2 separate regions of the Homo sapiens genome follow, and region 1 is linked to region 2. Evidence: fine-mapped expression QTL. A gene starts in region 2. The other region holds a variant in brackets. All regions are shown on one strand. Distances are between the middles of the regions.

What was found.
Region 1: its variant is fine-mapped to the expression of UFL1 in whole blood (INTERVAL, PIP 0.95).

The regions. Positions count from the first base shown.
Region 1 is chr6:96,586,394-96,596,604 of GRCh38, reverse strand. The region is part of intron 1 of FHL5 (four and a half LIM domains 5); the gene reads right to left. Among named protein-coding and RNA genes, the nearest start is that of FHL5, 28 kb to the right of the region's middle. The variant T/C (reference allele first, on the strand shown) is at 4,624.
Region 2 is chr6:96,515,465-96,525,544 of GRCh38, reverse strand. UFL1 (UFM1 specific ligase 1) reads right to left here and starts at 3,739. Exons shown (of 19, transcript NM_015323.5): 1 at 3,595-3,739; 2 at 2,254-2,399; 3 at 1,135-1,163; 4 at 151-248. The coding sequence starts at 3,671. UFL1-AS1 (UFL1 antisense RNA 1) reads left to right here and starts at 3,831. Exons shown (of 4, transcript XR_007059687.1): 1 at 3,831-10,080. RefSeq lists enhancers at 2,407-3,278, 3,945-4,134, 3,279-4,150, 4,151-5,022, 5,023-5,896.

The sequences.
Region 1 (10,211 bases), 71 kb before region 2:
CAAACTCACGGATAAATGCATGTTATGTGATGGGAAAGAGATGAAGCAGATATCGTGAAGGTCACAGTGTTTTCAAAGACAAAAGAAATGAGAACTACAAGAAGAGAATATATATTAATAACAATTAAGGAAAGTGTCAACAAGAAGGTAAATGATGTCTTCAAAAGAATAGTTTGGAGACACTAAATTGTCTGATGTCAGATTTCAGAGTTAAAATGTGAGTGACAAGATGCTCATTGCTGACAGCTTAGAAAATTGCATGTTCAAAAACACACGCCTAAGGAATAAAAAACGAACAAAATAAAATGTGTTGCCGAACTGGCAAGAAAGTAAGGGAAAATCTCAGAGGCTAAAACTAAAAAGAAAGCAGGAAACTAGAAAGGTTAACACTCTCTAAAGGAGCCATTTGTCCTGAGGATGTCTTCTGAGCCATGATGACCTTGTTATCCAAGTATTTACAGCCTGAACTTATACTAACTGTAAGGTCTAAAACTCTTAGGTTTTAGTTTAAAAGGCTTAGTTTAAAATGAAACACAAGAAAATCCTCTATGAAAGAATGTCCCATCATCCTAGGCCTAAAAAAAATCATACATATAAATTTTCATTGAGCATGAATTCACAATTAAAATATTTAAAATAAGAATAAGCAATGAAAACAAGCAGTATAAGTAAAAATCCAGCAAAGAAAATACTTGGATCACCAACAAAACAATTTCACATGAGAAATAACAGATACAAAATGGAAAATAATGTTTAACATATTTAAAGACATAACAGAGAGCATTATATAGAAAAATTCAGGAGAATAAAAATGACTAGGCAGATTTGCAACAGAACTGATAGAAATAAAAGAGATAAAAACTTATCATTAAAATTAAAACAGATTAAAATGCAGATTAGAATCAGTTGAAGGGAAAATTAATAAACTTGGAAATAGAACTAAAGATATACTATAAAATACAATGAAGAAAGAAAAAGAGATAGAAAATATATCAGTTAAAAAGAAAGTAGAAGATAGAGTAAAAGAATTTGACCTAAGTCTTTACAGAATTTCAAAAGAAGATAATAGAGAAAATGAGAAATATGCAAAGGTTGGAGATAGAATTGAATTTCCAAGAATTAATGACATTAATATACAGATGCAGAAAGTAAAACAAATTTCAGGCATCATAAAAACAAACACATCATAGTAAAGATGTCATATTCCAGAGACAAAGATGATCTTAAAGACATTCAAAGAGAAAAAAAAATGTCTAAAACACCAACAATTAGATATGCAGATAACTTCTAAACAGCAACAATAGAAACCAGAAGAAACTGAAATAATGCTAAGAGAAAATAAGTAAACTCTAGACCTGTATACTCAGTGAAGCTTAATTTAAAGAATAGGATGACATAAAAACATATTTAAGTTGACAAAAGCTATGTTTACTACCAAAAAACCTTCACTGAAGGGAATTCTAAAGAATGTGGTTTGAAAAAAAAGAAAGAAAAAAAGGAAACTCTCTAACGGAAGGTTTAGGAAAACTGAAGACAAAAAGAAAGAATAAGGAGCAAAGACCTCGACTAACATGCAGTTACACAAAAATAAACATTGACTGTATGAAAAAACAATAATAATTTGTGGGGTTCAAAAACACATAATAATACTAATGTACTGGGGAAAATAGCATTTAAGTGAGGAAAGAGTTGATTGTTAATCCTTGTATTGCTGGAAAAGAATACATTAACTGAATTACATTAAGATTAAGCATTCTCATGTTAAAATTTTAATAATAAGTCATTAGATTTGTTAAATTTTAATGGAAAACTCTAAACATAGAAATAGAAATAAGTAAAACAAAATTATTTCATAGAAAGTACGTAGGAAAAAGAAAACTAGAAAACTGAGACATCACAAAAGAAGAAGATATATGATACATTTTAAACCCAAATCAAACCAAATGAGTGGTTAAACTTTCTTGGTTGAAAACCAAAATATTCCAAAGATGATCCAAAAGTAACTGTCAACATCTGCAACCAATCTGAGTTCAAATCCCAACAAATTCTTGTCAGCTTCAACCAAAGATTAGATGAAAGGGAAATATAGTTTTCTTTAATACTATTTGAACCCAGAGGTCGGCCTAATTTAATATTTTTGTTAACTGTAACTCAGCACAACACTTGACAGAAACTAAAAGTTCTGCCCCTTGACCTAGCCATGTGACAAGAAAGGAGTGCATCCTCTGGGGGTAAAACAAAATGAAACAAAAATTGTACATGTGTATTTTGTTCCAATGTTTGGCAGGCAAAAAATTATAAGACACCTCAAGAAGTAAATACATACATACATATATATATATATATATATATATATATATATATATATATATATATAAATTCTAATATTTATTGGATCCTTTTCCAGTTCTTTCATTTTTCTGCTGAAATCATTTATACATTCACTCATTCTGTTCATTTCCTTCCAAATATTTAACATAAGTATAATAAAGTCCCTGTGGGGGCTTATGTTTAAAAATATTTGTAATAGAGAATTCAATGGATAAGATTATCAGCAGACTGAAAAAAGCAAAAGTAAAAATCAGCAACCTTGAAATGAAACAAACTAATGCATAAAGAGAAAATTCACTAAATGAAGATAATAGAAATAATTTTTCCCCAAAATAAAATTGTTGAAAGACTTCCAGTCCAATAATGGTACTCTGTATAATTCAAACCATGAGGCTGCTGTGAACCACTAGAGAAGCTAGTACTTAAAAAGTGTACTTAAAAAGTGTAGCTTGGAGGCATCAGAGAATTAATATTACAGTGAAGAATAGGCAAAGTCCAAAGGAAGGAGAAAAGCGTAGATGAGCTTGGTATTTGCTTTCCACAGAAGAATATGTACATCCAAAAAGATAAAATGAATAGTCTGAGAAGCTGTATGGCACTTCTGACAGCCTAGAAAGGCTAAGGGGACAAAGATTGAGGTCAATGGACCTTCCATGTAGCAGGCCTGGTAAGCTTATCATTGTGTAGGTGATATTTCCAAAGAGCTATGCCCTTGGAGTAACGTAAATTAGAAGTAAACTAGTATTTCAGAGATGGAAGCCCAGCTTTGAATTACCTCAGTTTCTAAAATTATATTAAGATAACCTTGGAATTCTGGTATCCCTAGGTGAACACCAGAATAAATACACATCCTGTCTGAAGGAAGAAAACATCATCTTAGGCCTCAATTACTTCTACACCAATGTCTAGCACTAAACAAAAATGACCATGTTCAGAAGAAGACAAGGGAATATAAAGAATAGAAACATACATGCAGGAAGCCATAGATTTTGGAGTTATAAGACAGAACATAAAACTATCCTTAATATGTTCAAGGGGGTAAATAAAATAAGGAGCAAAAATTTTGCAGAGAATTAAAAACAATGAAAAAGAATGAAATGTAAATTATAGTACAGAAATATACAATGATTTAAATTAGGGACATAATGGGAAATTTTAGAAAAGATTGTATGAAATGAAAAAGATGATAAAATAGAAAATAAAATTAAGCATGATGATAAAAGGTATAAAAAGTACAATTAAGAAAGTAAGAAACATAGATGATAGAATGAGAATGAGAAAAGAGAAAAATATACAAGTTGTATTTGAAGAAACAATGGCCCATCTTCCAAAACTGACAAAATACATGCCCCAAATTTTAAAAACCAAGAAAACATGAACCTCAACTGACCTGAAAAACACACTTGGACACATCAGGGTACAACTACTAAAAACGAAAGACAAATAACATATCAAAAGTAGATTATAAAATGTTGCGGGAAGTCAGGGACCCTGAACGGAGGGACTGGCTGAAGCCATGGTGGAAGAACATAAATTGTGAAGATTTCATGGACATTTATTAGATCCCCAAATTAATACTTTTATAATTTCTTATGCCTGTCTTTACTGCAATCTCTAAACATAAATTGTGAAGATTTCTTGGACACTTACCACTTCCCCAGTCAATACCCCTGTGATTTCCTATGCCTGTTTTCACTTTAATCTCTTAATCCTGTCATCTCGTAAGCTGAGGAGGATGTATGTTGCCTCAGGACCCTGTGATGATTGCATTAACTGCACAAATTGTAGAGCATGTGTGTTTGAACAATATGAAATCTGGGCACCTTGAAATAAGAACAGGATAACAGCAATGTTCAAGGGAATAAGAGAGATAACCTTAAACTCTGACCGCCAGTGAGCTGGGCGGAACAGAGCCGTATTTCTCTTCTTTCAAAAGCAAATGGGAGAAGTATCACTGAATTCTTTTTCTCAGCAAGGAACATCCCTGAGAAAGAGAATGTGCCCCTGAGGGTGGGCCTCTACAATGGCCCCCTTGGGTGTGGCCATCTTCTATGGTCAAGACTGTAGGGATGAAATAAGCCCCAGTCTCCCATAGTGCTCCCAGGCTTATTAGGACGAGAAAATTCCCACCTAATAAATTTTGGTCAGACAGGTTGCTCTCAAACCCTGTCTCCTGATAAGATGTTATCAATGACAGTGGTGCCCGAAACTTCATTAGCAATTTTAATTTTGCCCCGGTCCTATGGTCCTGTGATCTCGCCCTGCCTCCATTTGCCTTGTGATATTCTATTA[T/C]CTTGTGAAGTACCTGATCTCTGTGACCCACACCCTATTCGTACACTCCCTCCCCATTGAAAATCCCTAATAAAAACTTGCTGGTTTTACAGCTCAGGGGACATCACGGAACCTATCGACATGTGATGTGTCCCCCAGATGCCCAGCTTTAAAATTTCTCTCTTTTGTTCTCTGTCCCTTTATTTCTCAAACTGGCTGACACTTAGGGAAAATAGAAAAGCACCTACATGAAATATCGGGGGTGAATTTCCCCCCGATATCTGGCTGAATTTCCCCTGATAATAAAATATTACTTTCAGATTAATAACAAATTGAGGATACCTACTTCTCAACAGAAAAAAAAGGAAGCTAGACAATGGAGAGATATATTCAAATTGCTGAAAAAAATTAGCAGCCAACCTAGAAGTCTATGCCCAGGTAAAAGATCTTTTGACAATGAAGGTAAAAGCATTTTCAGGCCATCAGAAACTAAATTTATTAATCATCCACCCACGTTAAAATAATACCAAACAGTGTTCTTTGGGCAAAAGTACACATTGGAGATCACAGGTGCGGAAAAGAGTAGGGAAAAAATGAAAACCGTAAACATGTAGATGAATCTATGTAAATCTGACTATGTACAACAACCCTGTGTCAAAGAATTAGAAAATTTAGGTAAAATGGAAAAATCTAAAATAAATAAAACTATTAAAATTGACACAAGAAGAAATAAAAAATTATGACAACTATTAGATAAGTTGAATTTGTAATTAAAAAGGCTACATACAGAGGGAAATAAAGCCAAAGTGGCTTTACCAGTGAATTTTGCCAAGCTTTAAAGAAGAAATAACAGCAATCTCACACAAACCAAATCAAGTAAGTACAAACAGAGAACATGCTCTGGTAAATTTTGAACTCATTAACACTTTGGTATCAAAATCTAAAATCATTATGAGAAAGGAAAACTATAGGTCCATAATACTTCTGACAATAAATACAAAACCCAAACCCAAATAACAAGCAACTAAATCCAGTGATATATGAAGAGATTAGTATATCATGATCAAGTTGATTTCATTTTAGGAATGCCAAGTTCAGTTTAAAATTCAAGAGAATCACTGTGTTTCAATAATTTTACCAAGTAAAAGTGAAAGCTGTAAAATTACCTCAGCAGCTGCAGAAAAGGCATTTGATAAAATCTTACTTCAATTTATGATTAAAAACTCTTAACAAACTAAAAATGAAAGAAACTTCTTCAATGTGGTTTAAAAAAACCTATAGCGAACACTATACTTAATGGTAAATGTTGATAGCTTTTACTCGGATTATAAATAGGAAAAGAATACCCACAATCACCACTTCTATTCAGCTTTATACTGGAAGCCATAGATTTTGCAGTAAGGTGAGGGAAAAAAGTACAAGAGTTAAAAGGAAACAAACTCATTATTTGCTGATGTTCTAATTGTGGAGAAAATCAAAAAAATTCTATAATACCTGATTAGAATTTACAAGTTAGTTATTAGAGTTGCTCAGTAAAATGTCTATATATAAAAATCAATTGTATTCCTATTTAACAATAACAAACAGTGAAATGAAAAAAAATCATTTATGATATTTAAATTCCCTGAGAAACCTAATAAGAATGTATGAGCTCTCTACATAGAAAATTATAAGACTTTGAAAGAATAAACAGAAAACCAAAATAAATACATGGAAGGAAAATACCATGCTCTTAGACTTGAAGACTTACTATTGTGAAGGTATTATTTCCCCTTCATTTGCCCTATAGATGCAAAATAAAATTCCATCAGGTTATTTTTTTACAAGCTAATTCCATAACTTATAAAGAAATGCAGAGGGCCAGGAATAGTGTAATCACCTTTGAACAAGAACAAGATTGGAAGACTTGCTAAGTCAGATATCAAGACATTATAAAGCTACTATAGTGGATGGTATGGTATAAACACAGGATTAAATACTTAGATCACCAGAACAGAATAGAGAGCTCAAAAGCAAGTCTATACATATATAACACATGACCTAAAGGACAGTGAGGAATAACGAAGAATAGGAATGGTCTTTTTAGTAAATGGTGTTGGGTCAATTGTATTTATTTCCATATGAAAAAGAATGAAACTAGATTACTACTTCACATGACATATAAAGATTATTTCCAGGTGAACCATAGATCTCAGTGTTAGGACAAAGCAATAATCCTTTGAGAATATAAGAGAATGTCATTATAAACTTGTAATGTGAAAGGTTTCAGAAATAAGCCAGAAAATATGCTGGCCATGTAGAGAAAATTTAATACACTAGACTAAATTAAACTTAAGAACTTCTGTTTCTCAAAAAACACAAATAAGAGTAAAGAGAGAGCCAAAGAATGTATTGCAATTCATTAATTAACAAAGAAGTCATATCCAAAACATGTGAAGAAGTCCTACGAATCAATAAGAAAAAAAATGGACCACCCAATAAAAGTACAAAAGACTTGAACAGATACACAGAGGAGGATAACCAGCTGGCTAATAAACATGAAAATGTTCTCAACTTCATTAACAACCACTGAAAGATAATTTAGCAAGTTCCTTGATACAAGGTCAATATAAAAATATCAGCAAAATTCCTACACATCAGAAATACAATGTTAAAAAAATACAATATTCAAAAGCAATGGAAATTGTACTTGTCTTAAATGTAACAAGATGTATCTGAAACTTTAATATAGTGGAAGAATTTGTTGTAAACAATATAAGAACTTGTCATCATTAAGGCAGTGTAGTATTGAAACAGGATAAACCAAAGACCAATGGAGGAGAAGAGAGAATCAAATCAGATCTATGCATATATGAAAATGTGATATGTCAAAAATGGTAGTTTAGAGGGGGAAATAATTATTTAAGAAATGATACAGAAATAATTGGTTATTTACATGGGAAAAATTAAATTGAATCCATACTTCATACCATACTCAAAACAATTCCATCATCAATATGAAAGGCAAGTCTTTAAAATATGGAAGTAAATTTCTATGATCTTATGATCATATGTTAGGAAAATTTTTTTAAAAAATATGAAAAACACAAACTGTAAATGAAAAGGTTGTTACTTTTTTTTTAAAAGAATTGCTCATTAAGAGACACTATTTAAAGAATGAAAAGACAAGCCACAATATAACAGATGATATTTGCCACACAAGTAACTGAAAGAGAGTTAGAAAACAAAATATATAAAACATTCCTGTGAATCAATAAGTGAATTAAAAACAAGCTAATGGAGACTGTTTTTCCATTAGCTTGTTTTTAATTCACTCATAATAAGCAAATATTTTCTTTTGTAACTGGAAAATATTTATTTTAAAGAAAGCACAACCTACTCTTAATCAGTGAAATTTAAATAGATCTGTTCAACAAACCAAAATGAACTGCATTTATACTCACAAAATATGAAAAGAATGCTGACAATATCAAATGTTGGTGAGGACAAAGAAATAACAGGAGGCCAGGCGCAGTGGCTGATGCCTGTAATCCCAGCACTTGGGAGGTTGAGGCAGGTGGATCACCTGAGGTCAGGACCAGCCTGACCAACATGGTGAAACCCCGTCTCTACTGAAAATACAAAATTAGCCAGGCATGGTGGTGCATGCCTGTAATCCCAGCCAGTTGGGAGGCTGAGGCAGGAGAATTGCTTGAACCTGGGAGGTGGAGGTTGCAGTGAGCCGAGATTGTGCCATTGCACTCCAGCCTGGGCAATAGAGTGAGACTTCGTCTCAAAAAAAAAGAAAGAAAGAAATAACAGGAACTCTTACGTGTTGAAAATAAGTATGCAAAAATGAATGGATAAAATCACTTTGAAAAACAATTTTTCATTACATTGTAAAATTGAACATATACCTTTCATGTGACTCAACAATTTCACCCCTAAGTGTGTAAATTTGAGAGAAACTTTCAGCGATGATGTGGAACAATGCTCACAGCCACGGAGTTTATACTAGCCATAGCAAAAAAGTCTGAATGTCCATCAAGGGAAAAATGGATAAATAAGTAGATGTGTGGTCACACAACATATTGTCATATGGCCACAAAAACAGATGACTTACAGGTACCCTCCTTAATGCAGAAGAACTTTACAATATTGAGTAAACAAGCAAGTTGTAGAGAGTAAATATACCAGAATGACATTTATATAAAGTTTAGAACAGCCAAAGTTTATTATTAGGAATTATGAATATGTGCTTTTATTTTTAAAAAGCATAGTGATGATTAACAAAAAATTCAGGATGCAATATAAGATTATCTAATTTTCATAGTTATTAAAATAAATTGGGATGTTGCACAACGGGTTTCAAATATAAAGGGGATGTTTTCTTTGTTAAGCCAATTTGTTATTTCTTACAGTTTGTGTATATGTTATGAATACTCTTTTCTATATAAGGAGACTTCAAAAAGTTAATAGAAGTGGAATTAAGAGATAAAAATTAAAAATATAAATTTATTTCTCAACATAAGCTCCATCAAGTTTGACACTTTTGTAAGTGATGATATCAGCCATATAATCCATTCCTAAAGAACTGAGGATCCTGGGAATTTAACCATGTAAATGTAGTCTTTTTACATAAGTAACTGAAGAAAAATAGGTGCCCTTTAAGGACTTTTTTAAGATTAGGAAACAAAAGGAAGTCAGAAGGAACCAAGTCGGGACCATAAAATGGTTGCCTAATAATTTTCCATAGAAATTCTCACAAAATTGCTCTTGTTTGATGAGAGAAATGAGCAGGGGCATTGTGAAGAACTCTCTGGTGAAGATTTCTTGTGCGTTTTTCAGCTAAAGCTTTGGCTAACTTTCTCCAAACACTCTGATAATAAACAGATGTTATTGTTCTTTGGCCCTCCAGAAAGTCAACAAGCAAAATGCCCTGAGCATCCCAAAAAGCTGTTGCCATGACCTTTGCTCTTGAATGTTCTCCTTTGGCTTTGACTGGACCACTTCCGTCTCTTGGAGGCCATTCCTTTGATTGTGCTTTGTCTTCAGGATCGGACTGGCAAAGCCGTGTTTCATCTCTTATCACAGTTCTTCAAATAAATGCTTCAAGATCTTGATCTCACTTGTCTAAAATTTCCATTGAAAGCTCTACTCTTGTCTGCAGCTGATCTGTGCAATCGTTTTGGCACACAAGTGTTAAGTTTGCTCATCTTATTTTTTTTTAGTCAGAATTGTGTAAGCTGAACCAATTGAGATGTCTATGGTGTTGGCTATTGTTTCTGCTGTCAATTGTCAGTCCTCTCCAATTAGGGCACAAAGGATTAATTTTTTCCTTGCAAATTTATGTGAATGGTTTGCTGCTGCAGGCTTCATTTTAACATCATCTCATCCCTTCTTGAGACAAGTTATCCATTTGTAAACTGCTAATTTCTTTGGGGCATTGTCCCTATTATCTTTACATAAAGTATAAATTAGTTCACCTTTCTTCCTCCCAAGCTTCACTGTAAATTTGATGTTTGCTCATGCTTCAATTTTAGAAGAATTTATGTTGCTCTGATAGAGACTCCTCAAACTGATGTCTTATCCTTCTTGTTGCCTCAAACTAGATCCTTTTCAGACATGTT
Region 2 (10,080 bases):
TAAGTGAAATAAACCTTATCATGAAAATCAACACTGTAAGAGTTATAAATGAAATGTCTAACTGGCCATAATTGGCCTAAATTTAAACACTATAAAAAAAAGAAAGAAAATAAACAAAGTGCTCTTAAATTTGTACTTTATTGTACTTACTCATCTATCAGTTGTCCCAACACTAACTGAACATGCTTTTCTGATTTAATAATGTCACCAATTCTATTTTCAATATGAATCAGGTCCACATTAATTACCTGGAAAACAAATACAAAATCTATTAATGATTAGTTTGTATTGTTTCTTAAGCTTGAAATTATATACTTAGAACTATATTTTTAAAGAAATTGCCGGCCAGGCATGGTGGCTCATGCCTGGATTCCAGCACTTTGGGAGGATGAGGCGGGAGGATCCCTTCAGTTCAAGAGTTTGAGACCAGCCTGGGCAACATAGGGAGACTCCCATCTCAAAAAAAAAAAAAGAAAGAAAGAAATTGCTTATTCTTAAATTTTGAATCAATCTGAAATAATACGAAAAGCATTGGCCAAATAAAAAATTAGAGGTGTATTGCTTAGTTATTTTCAGTTCTGAAGAATTAAACTGTCACTTGCTAGTAAGTTTATATAAAGCAGTAAATTACATATTCATATAACAGATAGCATTTTACAGAAAATTCGCTGGCTTCTTGTTTATAGTGTACCTTGGTAATGACATATATATTTGTATATTTTGAAAATAGCTTCTACTTTTAAAAATGTTTCTCTATTACTTTCATATACTAAAAACATATAAACATGAAACTGGTGACTTTTCTCCCAAAATGACATAAACTCTATACTTACATAAAATAACTATGAGTTCATTTGGTAAAAAGTTAAGAATAAGAAAGCCAACTAGGGAAGAGTTGGCCAACTCTTTAATAAGGCCAACTTATTAAATCATTTCAATAAATCCGAATTTATTAAATCATTTTAATGTATCAGAACTTGTTAAATCAATTCAGTGTATCAGCGAGGCTTATATAACTATTTCTTTATAAACACTACACAAAATATGATACCAGCATTAGTGAATACTTGAACAAATTCACAGTATCAAAAAATTGAGAAAGTAAAGCAAAAATTTTATAAATTTAAAACCTACCTGTTGTAGATCAACAATGTTTACTCGACCTTTGAAGAAAAGACATTCATTTATTTTAAATGATCTATGCGTACATACCAACCCAAAGCTATAAATTCTAACATTTAAGTTTTGGTCAAAGTCCTGCATAGAACAGAGAGCCAGAATAATCAATGTCTTCAAATACACACCATTAGCTGATGGCTAAGTCTTCATGGCTGAAGCCATAAGCAATAACTTACTTTCAATTTTTTTTTTTTTTTTAAATAACATCAGGCCAATTATGAGCACCAACTGGCACACAAATTGGCTCTATCTATGAAGGGTATTCATTTCCCTTCACAATTCAGAATTTATCTACTGTGATCAAAGAGATATTGACAACTAAATTAAGATGAACTTTTTTTCAATTATTTGATACTAAAAGGTAGGCTTCTACATATCAGCATAAGAAAATCTGTTAAGTAATTCAAATTATAGCTCATATTTTAAAGGTACTATGAAGGAAAATAGATAAATAAAAAAAGACAAAGACCAATGTTACACTCTGATAATATGAAGAGAGGCTTTCATAATTGCTTCTATTTTAATCAAATAGTATTCAAATATGCTTGGTAGTCTGTTCAAATTTTAAGAAGACAAAGGAAACCAACTTTGTGCGTGTTTTTAACAGCATTTCATACAATATGATTGGTGTAGCACCACACTGGATTGAGTTACCTAATTTGTAAGTACAAGTAAGCCTTAAAAAGAAATACAGCCTTGATTTTCAAAAATCTATAATCCTGTAAGATACTGTCCCCCTTCACAATTACCACCTAATAAAAGGCAGCTGAATACCCTTCCCTGAGTCATGCAATAAATTAATGAATTGTAAAAAGAAACAATTAATTCATGTATAGTACACATAACTCAAAATGATAAAATATTTTAAGTGACAACATTTGAGTTCATTTAAATTATATGACCATGTTTGCATGAACCCAGTAAAAATATTAAGCCTGATTATCAAATTAACAATTGAAAACGATATCTTACAATCTATAATTTAGTATGCAATTACATGTTTACGGGTTTTGTTTGTTTGTTTTGCCCCTTCCAAAAATCCAAGAAAAAAAAAAACACTAAAGAATTACCTACCACCTCGGACATGTAGCTCATCTCTCATTTCTTTACTAATTTGGGCTGGAGTAATATATTCCTTTCCATCGAGTGTATGAACTACTTCTAGCTGTTTCTGAGCAATCAATTTATTAACAATCTCAATGCAGTTCCGCTCGGACAACCTGAGGGAAAGAAAAAAAGTTGTTTCAAAAGTCCACTTGAGACATTGGCGCTCAATAAAATTAATACAATGTATGAAAACAGGCTTTTAAAAAGTTTGTTTAGTCACTAACTTCTACATCACAATATCTGTATTTTTCACTAACTGATTCAATAAGTTAAAAAAAAACCTTTCAGAGTAAGTAGGTTTACATATGCTTAAATCATTTATTTAATTGGTACACATCATCCCATCACAAATTTCAAGTCTGTTGTCTCTTACAGGCCTGCTTCCAATCTTCAAATCTGAAGGGAAAATTGAAGACATTTATTTAGGTAGGAAAAAAGAAAAAACAAAACAAAACAAAACAAAAAATGCCCTAATTTCCAGTTTAATCAGAATTTTCTTTTAAATTAAGTGCATAATTGCCTCACTTACACACATGGTCTGCAAGCAGGCAGGGGATGTGGCCTAGTGAAACCATAACTTTTACCCACGTTAGTTACCCATGCAGTTACGAGTTTGCTATCAGTGGTAGAAAATACAGCATAAGGGGATTGCTGTCTTCCGGCTCAAAAGGAATAAAACATCGCAGGTAGGAAGTAGTCAAAGAATAGAAAGGCTTCTATTAGCGTTATTTTTAAAAAGCAGAGTTAGGCTCCTCTGGACACATCCTCCAAAGGTTAGTGGGCTTGTAGAAAATGTCAGTGCCCTGAATAACAGATGGGGTCAGGGGTCTAGCCCTAGGTCTGTTACGAGAGATAAAAGGGCAAGAAGTTTTAAGGATCAACATACTATTTGCCAAGTACTGTACTGGGGGCGGGGGTTAGCCTCTCCTTTCGAGCTCATTCTAGATCAGGAAGTGTATAATAGCCAAGATGTCACAGTGATTTGGTGGTTGGTGGGTGAGGGAGGGTCAAAGAAATGCTCAATAAAGGCAGCTCGAAATCACCGGCCCCGTCCATGGTGGGGCGGGGCGCGCCAGCATTTCGCTGCAGCTGGGCTGGGGGGCTCCAGGGCGTCCTAGGCTGAGGACTTTCCCGCCGAGCCTTGGACTTGGAACTGCGATCCAGGCTCGGGACAGAGGGAGGAGGAGAGAATGGTGACAAGCAGCGAGAAGACCCGGGATGCAGGGCCGCGGGTCTAAAGTCCCAGATACAGGCGTGTCCGCCCACGGCCTAATTTGGGCTCCACAAAGGAGAGGGAGGGTCGGGCACCTCTGCGTGGCCTCGGCGAACTGCGCCCGCTGGAAGTCGGCCGCCAACCGCCTAATCTCTTCCCAGGCGTCCGCCATCACGGCCTGACTCGCAGTAGACGCGGAGGAACTGCAGACACGTCAGCCGACAGGCGGTGGGAGAAGAGAGGCGGAACGGGCCGCGCAGAGGGACAAGAGGCTCCGCCCCCGACGCAGACACACCAAACGCTTGCGCCCGAGGCGCGGGGGGCGGGCGGAAGTGCCGTGGTTGTACCGCGGCGCTGGGGGTTCCTCCCGGCGAGACTGGCGGGGCTGCGGCGGCTAGGAGAGTGGTGCGTAGGTGTTTCTGGGGGGGTCGTGGGCAGGATGCAGGGCTCAGTAAAGTTTAGTGTCAGAACTTTGTTTGCGCTACCCCTAATATTTCCGTAGAGTAATAGTTGTATTAACTACTTTTCTTTTTTCTTCTGTCCTCCATTTGTTTTGGGGGAGGGTGCGGAGGAATAAGCCTGTGTCTAAGATTGGCGCCTCTCTTCTCTAGCTGTTAACTCTGAGCATTCCCTTTTGTATAGGGTATCGTGTTAATTTTTACATGCACCCAGAGCAGTCTGCCTTTTGGAAGATACATGGGAGACCCTACCGAAAGTAATTACTTTTTTTTTACAGAGTGAATAAATTTGCGTGTCATAAAGGCTGTATAATTGCTTTCGTGTCTAGAGTTCTAGAGTCTTTCGTATTTCTCTTATTGCAATGATTAACTTCATCAAATAATGAGGAATATAAACATAAGGTGCATGGCTATCAAGGAAACAGGGAAAGCAAAGAGAACATGTATCCTGCTTCCCTGTTGAGTAGATATTTACTCAGGTGTACCTTTCTTTTTTATATCTTTTTTATATCTTATGAATTGAAAATAAATCATGGGACCCCCAAATCACTAAGCTAAAGGGAAAAGTCATACTGGGAACTGCTTAGGGAATCCTGCCTCCCATTCTATTCAAAGTCACCCCTCTGCTCACTGAGATAAATGCATGTCTGATTGCCTCATTTGGAGAGGCTCATAAGAGAATGCAACTGTCTGTTATCTACCTATGACTTGGAACTTCCTCCCCACTTGGAGTTGCCCCGCTTTTCCAGATCAGACCAATGTTTATCTTACATATATTGATTGCTGCCCCATGTCTCCCTAAAATGTGTAAAACCAAGCTGTGCCCCAGCCACCTTGGGCGCATGTTGTCAGGATCTGTGCCATGTCATGGATGCAAGTTCTTAACTTTGGCTAAATAAACTTTCTGAGTTGATTGTGACCTGTCTCAGATATTTGGAGTTCATGTATCTCACTCTTTACTATTTAAAAAATATTATTCCAGTTAGAAAGAATGAATAATATCAAGTATTTGATAGCACAGCAGGGTGACTAGTTGTCAGAGGCGTTTGAACTAGAGCAACTCCATCTTGAATAGGGGCTGGGTAAAATAAGGCTGAAACCTACTGGGCTGCATTCCCAGGAGGTTAGTCACAGAGTGAGATAGAAGGTCCACAGGCAGGAAAAACAAGTCATAAAGACCTTGCCGATAAAACAGGTTGCAGTAGTGAAGCCAACCAAAACCCACCAGAAACCAAGATGATGAATACAGTGACCTCTGGTCGTCTTCACTGCTCATTATATGCTAATTATAATTCATTATCATGTTAAAAGACACCCCCACCAGTGCCATGACAGTGTACAGATGCCATGGCAACGTCTGGAAGTTACCTTATATGGGTCTAAAATGGGGAGGAACTCTCAGCCCTGGGAATTGCCTACACCTTTCCTTGGAAAACTTGTGAATAATCCACCCCTTGTTTAGCTGTAATCAAGAAATAACTATAGGTATCCTTAGGCCAGCAGCTCAAGCCGTTGCTCTGCCTATGGAATAGCCATTTTTTTTTTCCTTTGCTTTCTTTATAAACTTGCTTCACTTTATGGATTTGCTTTCAATTCTTTCTTGTATGAAATCCAAAAACCTTCTCTTGGGGTCTGGATTGGGACACCTTTCCGGAAGTACAGTCAATAATAATTCAATTGTACATTTTAAAAAACAAAGTACAAGTGGATTGTTTGTAACACAAAGGAAATGCTTGAGGTAATGGATACCACATTTACCCTGATGTGATAATTACATGCTGTATGCCTGCATCAAAATATTTCATGTACTCCATAAATATATACACCTACTATGTACCTACAAAAATTAAAAACTAAAAAATAAAAATATTCCTTTTAATCATATATTGATAGAGTTGGTAAAGGGGAGCTATTTCAATTTCTTTTCCATCTAAGTACATTACTGTGGGCAACTCAAATCCAATGCCATAAACGTAATTGTCTATTAAATTCCCCAGCTTTATTTAAAAGACAGGAACTCAGTCATAAAACCTTCCACTAAGTACTGCTAGAAAATGACAATGGCTACCTGATTATGGACCAAGAGGGAAAACACCAGAAGTCAAAGAGGTAGTTTGGAAGGTGGTAGGTAGTGTGGTTCCAGAGAGCATCAAGCTTCAAAACAAGCAGAAACATTCATTCCTAAAACACATATTTATTAATTCTCTATCAGATGCCATGGAGCACAGTGGTGGATAAGGAAGACATGGTCTGGCCGTAACAATTTTGAAATCTAATGAAGCAGATTAAAAAGATAAGTACTTACAATAAAAGTGTGGAAATTCTAACAATAGGGGAAGTATAGGGCAGTATGTGATCACTTGGCAGCCAAACTTCTTGCTTCCTATGTAAGACTCTCACAGTCAGACTGGAGCTGCACATCTCTGCCGCTGCACAACACATGGAGAATAGTCTGCTGTATCCTAGCCTTGCCAAGCCCTTTCAGGACCCCATGTCTTTACTGGATTGCCTGTCCACTTCCCCACGCCCCCGACCCTCATCCCCGCATATTATTTTGTAACATATTTCTTCATGGTATCCCAGCTTTAAAGTCTTCAATGAAACCTTTTAAACTCCTACAGTTATTGTATATGTTGTGTTTCCACATTTCTTTATTTAGATGCCTCTAATAGCAAGAAAAGTTATATTGTAGTTTATTAACTTATTTACTGCATCTCTCAATATCCTGAGCTCCTAAAGGAACTCCTGAAAGTTCCTCAGCACTTAGCGTGACAACTAGTACATAGTACCTGCTGTATTCTATAAATGTCCTTTATGTGAGTAAGTCAGTGTAAATGTTTTGGTGCAGCATTATACTTTGGTAAAATAGTACTATGTTAATATTACTAACATTTACATTTATTCCTAAGAAAGGAAACCATAAGAATAATTCATGGTTATATTTTCTAGAGACTAGGCTTGTTTCGTCCAGTATGGTACTCAATAGCCATATAAAGCTATTTACATTTAAATTAATTAAGATTAAATACAATTGATAATGTGGTCCTTCAGTTGCACTAGCCACATTTCAGATTCTCAGTAGTCACATGTGCCTCATGGCTATCATATGGGATAGTTTAGAAAAACATCTTCGTCTTCACAGAAAGTTTTATTGTACAGCTCTGGTCTAGACCTTTGATGGGATGCACATTTGTTCAGACTCTGAGATCATATAACTTAAATATCTCCACCTAGCAACCATATACTCTAACTACATTTTCAGTTATTTTGAATGGGTAATAAGCATTTGAATGGAGGATATTTCAGTGTTGGCTGATATCTGATATTAAGTAGAGCTTTAATCAATACAGTGCATGCCTAGAATAATGGTAAGAATCCCAAGTGGCTATTTAATAACAGATGAGAGATTCTTTTGAAGAGCAAGCTTTGTGTAGACTTGGGAAATAGAATTTCCATTCTCTACAAAATATTGTAATAGTTGTGTTTGTGTCTACAAACTTAAGTTGAATTTTGATATGTAGATGATGGGGGAGGATTGATGGTGTCTTCAGCTGCACTCTGTACATGATTTGTGACACTATCCTTAGACTCACTTTAAAATATGAAGGGCAATAAAATATTGCCACATTTATAATTTGAATTGATGGCTACCCTGATAGCATATCAAGTGTGATCTGGTAAAGTTCCTCCATGATAAATTTTAAAAAAATAAAATTTGAAGCATTTTTTCCTTGTCTGTCAAGAAAATACAACTGTAAACTTTGAAATACTTTTCCTGGTTCAACTAGGAAAATAAAACTAAGTAACTACAATTGGGTATTGTCAAGCAAATCAGTATTCACTGTTTGTCACATAGGGAAATTACCAAGACATAGTGTTAATTGTGTCACTGACATTATCCTATTGTAATGAAGGATTTAAAAATTATTTTAATCCCATAATCAAAAATGGTAGTGAACATCCAAACATAGCAAATATTAGTGCCTTAGGAAAACACTATGATTCATGAGTAGAAGGAGAGGAAAAAGACCACTGAAAAAGAGGAAAGTAATTAGAGCAGCAAAAAATTATAGACGAAGGATAGTTAACAATAACTCTACAGAGTTAAGGACAAGGAAAATAATGCAGAACCACTGGCTATTACAGCAAAAAGGCTATGCCTTTTACTTTATTTATTTATTTATTTATTTTTAAAAATAGAGATGAGATCTTGCTCTGTTGCCCAGGCTGGTTTCAAACTCCTGGCCTCAAGTGATTCTCCCACCTTGGCCTCCTTAAGTTCTGATTTTACAGGTGTGAGCCATCGTGCCCAGCCAGGCTGTGACTTTTAACAGGGGATTGTTTCTTTTTTTCCTGCCATGGTTGCAATAGAAGTCAGATTGTAAGAGCATAAAGAAGCCATATTAGTGTGGAGACAAAAGTGACTCCACCTTAAATGCTAATCTGCTATAATGATTTTTGAGTATCCTCAGTCCCATGAATGCCTCCTGATTCCTACTTTATTTACTGTCCCTAGAGAAAGAACATGTCAATCTTGATGTTATCCCACAGTTTACAGACTATGATGAATATATAGCATTGTTGCCTGTTCTGGAGGATTGCCTTTAATTATCTTGCATAGAGAGCACTTATACCCTTTCACTGTAGTATATAAGCTCTGGGTTGGGAGGTAACAGGTTTAGAGATCTACCTGTCTTGCTGCTGCCCAAGACCACACTTCCGTCTGTAAGTTACCTCCATCACTGACAAACTGGATTTTTCTACCTCATTCTTTGATTTCTCAGCTCCTCTGGCATTTGGGGGGAACTTTGCATATATGGTGGCCCTTTCACAGAACAGTCAGCATTCTCCAGAGTAACAGAGAGATTATAGTAATTGGCCCATGTGATTATGGAGGCTGAGAAGTCCCATGATCTGCAAGCTGGAGAACCATAGAAGTTGGTGGTGTAGTTCAGTCTGAGTTTGAAGGTCTGTGAACCAGGAGTGCTGATGTCCGAGAGGAGGAGAAGATGGCTGTTCAGCTCAAGCAGAAAGCTAATTCACTGTTCTCTGCCTCTTTGTTTCATTCAAGCCCTCAAGGGATGGTATAATGCCTACCCAAATGGGTGAGAGCGTCTTTTTTACTCAGTCTACCAATTCAGATACAAGTCTCTTCTGTAAACACCTTCACAGACATACCCAGAAATAATGTTTTACCAGATATTTGGGCATCCTTTAGCCCAGTCAAACTGACACATAAAATTAACTGTCATAGAAGGACTACCTCGTTAGCAACTAAGAACAATGGGACTTAGAACAAAGACCTCATCAGGTATTAAATTGGAAGAAGATACATTAATGAAAAGAAATGTTATGGTACTGTTGAAGATGGAGGCAGCAAGACCCTCCGAGGCTATAGAAAAAATAGCGTAATAAACCCAGAAAGGCTCTTCAAGATATCTATGTTAGTGTTCTACCTAACACAGCAATAATTTCTTTGCAAAGCCCCTGGCAGATTATTTAGTTTTGCTTGGATCCTTAAGGTGATGAAGTGTTCCCTTTTTAGCAAGGTAAATGAATCTGTTTTTGGACAGATGTAACTCTTAGAAATTTCTTCCTTGTACTGCTAAAGCAAGGTCTGTTTCCCTGTAGCTTCCATATGGTTTCCTTAAGTGATAAACAGACTGACTGTAATATATCTTTCCTATGACAGCCCTCCAAATATCTGAAGTATGTCCCTCCTGTTTTCTTTTTTTAAGTTAAGCATCCCAGATACTTCAATTTATATCTCCTCACAAGATTGCCAGACCTCTTAATATTTTGGCTGCCCAATCAGAATAAAGTTGTTGAACTCTAGTTTGCCAGTGTCAATTTTAAAAAGTAATGTCCAGAAGGAATTTTGTATTTTGCATGTAGTCTGACTGGAACAGATAAGAGACAGTGAAATTAATTTTGTTAGATATTTTACACTTGTTAATTGGACTCTTGGCCTAAACTGAACTGTAATGAATGTACCTGTCTGGTATTTATCTAAATTGCCATCAAACCAGGTTTAGTCTATTCTGTAGCTGAAAAAATTAATTTTATTTGATAAATTTTACCTTGTTCGTTTTGATCCATTCATTCATTTATTCATTCATTGTT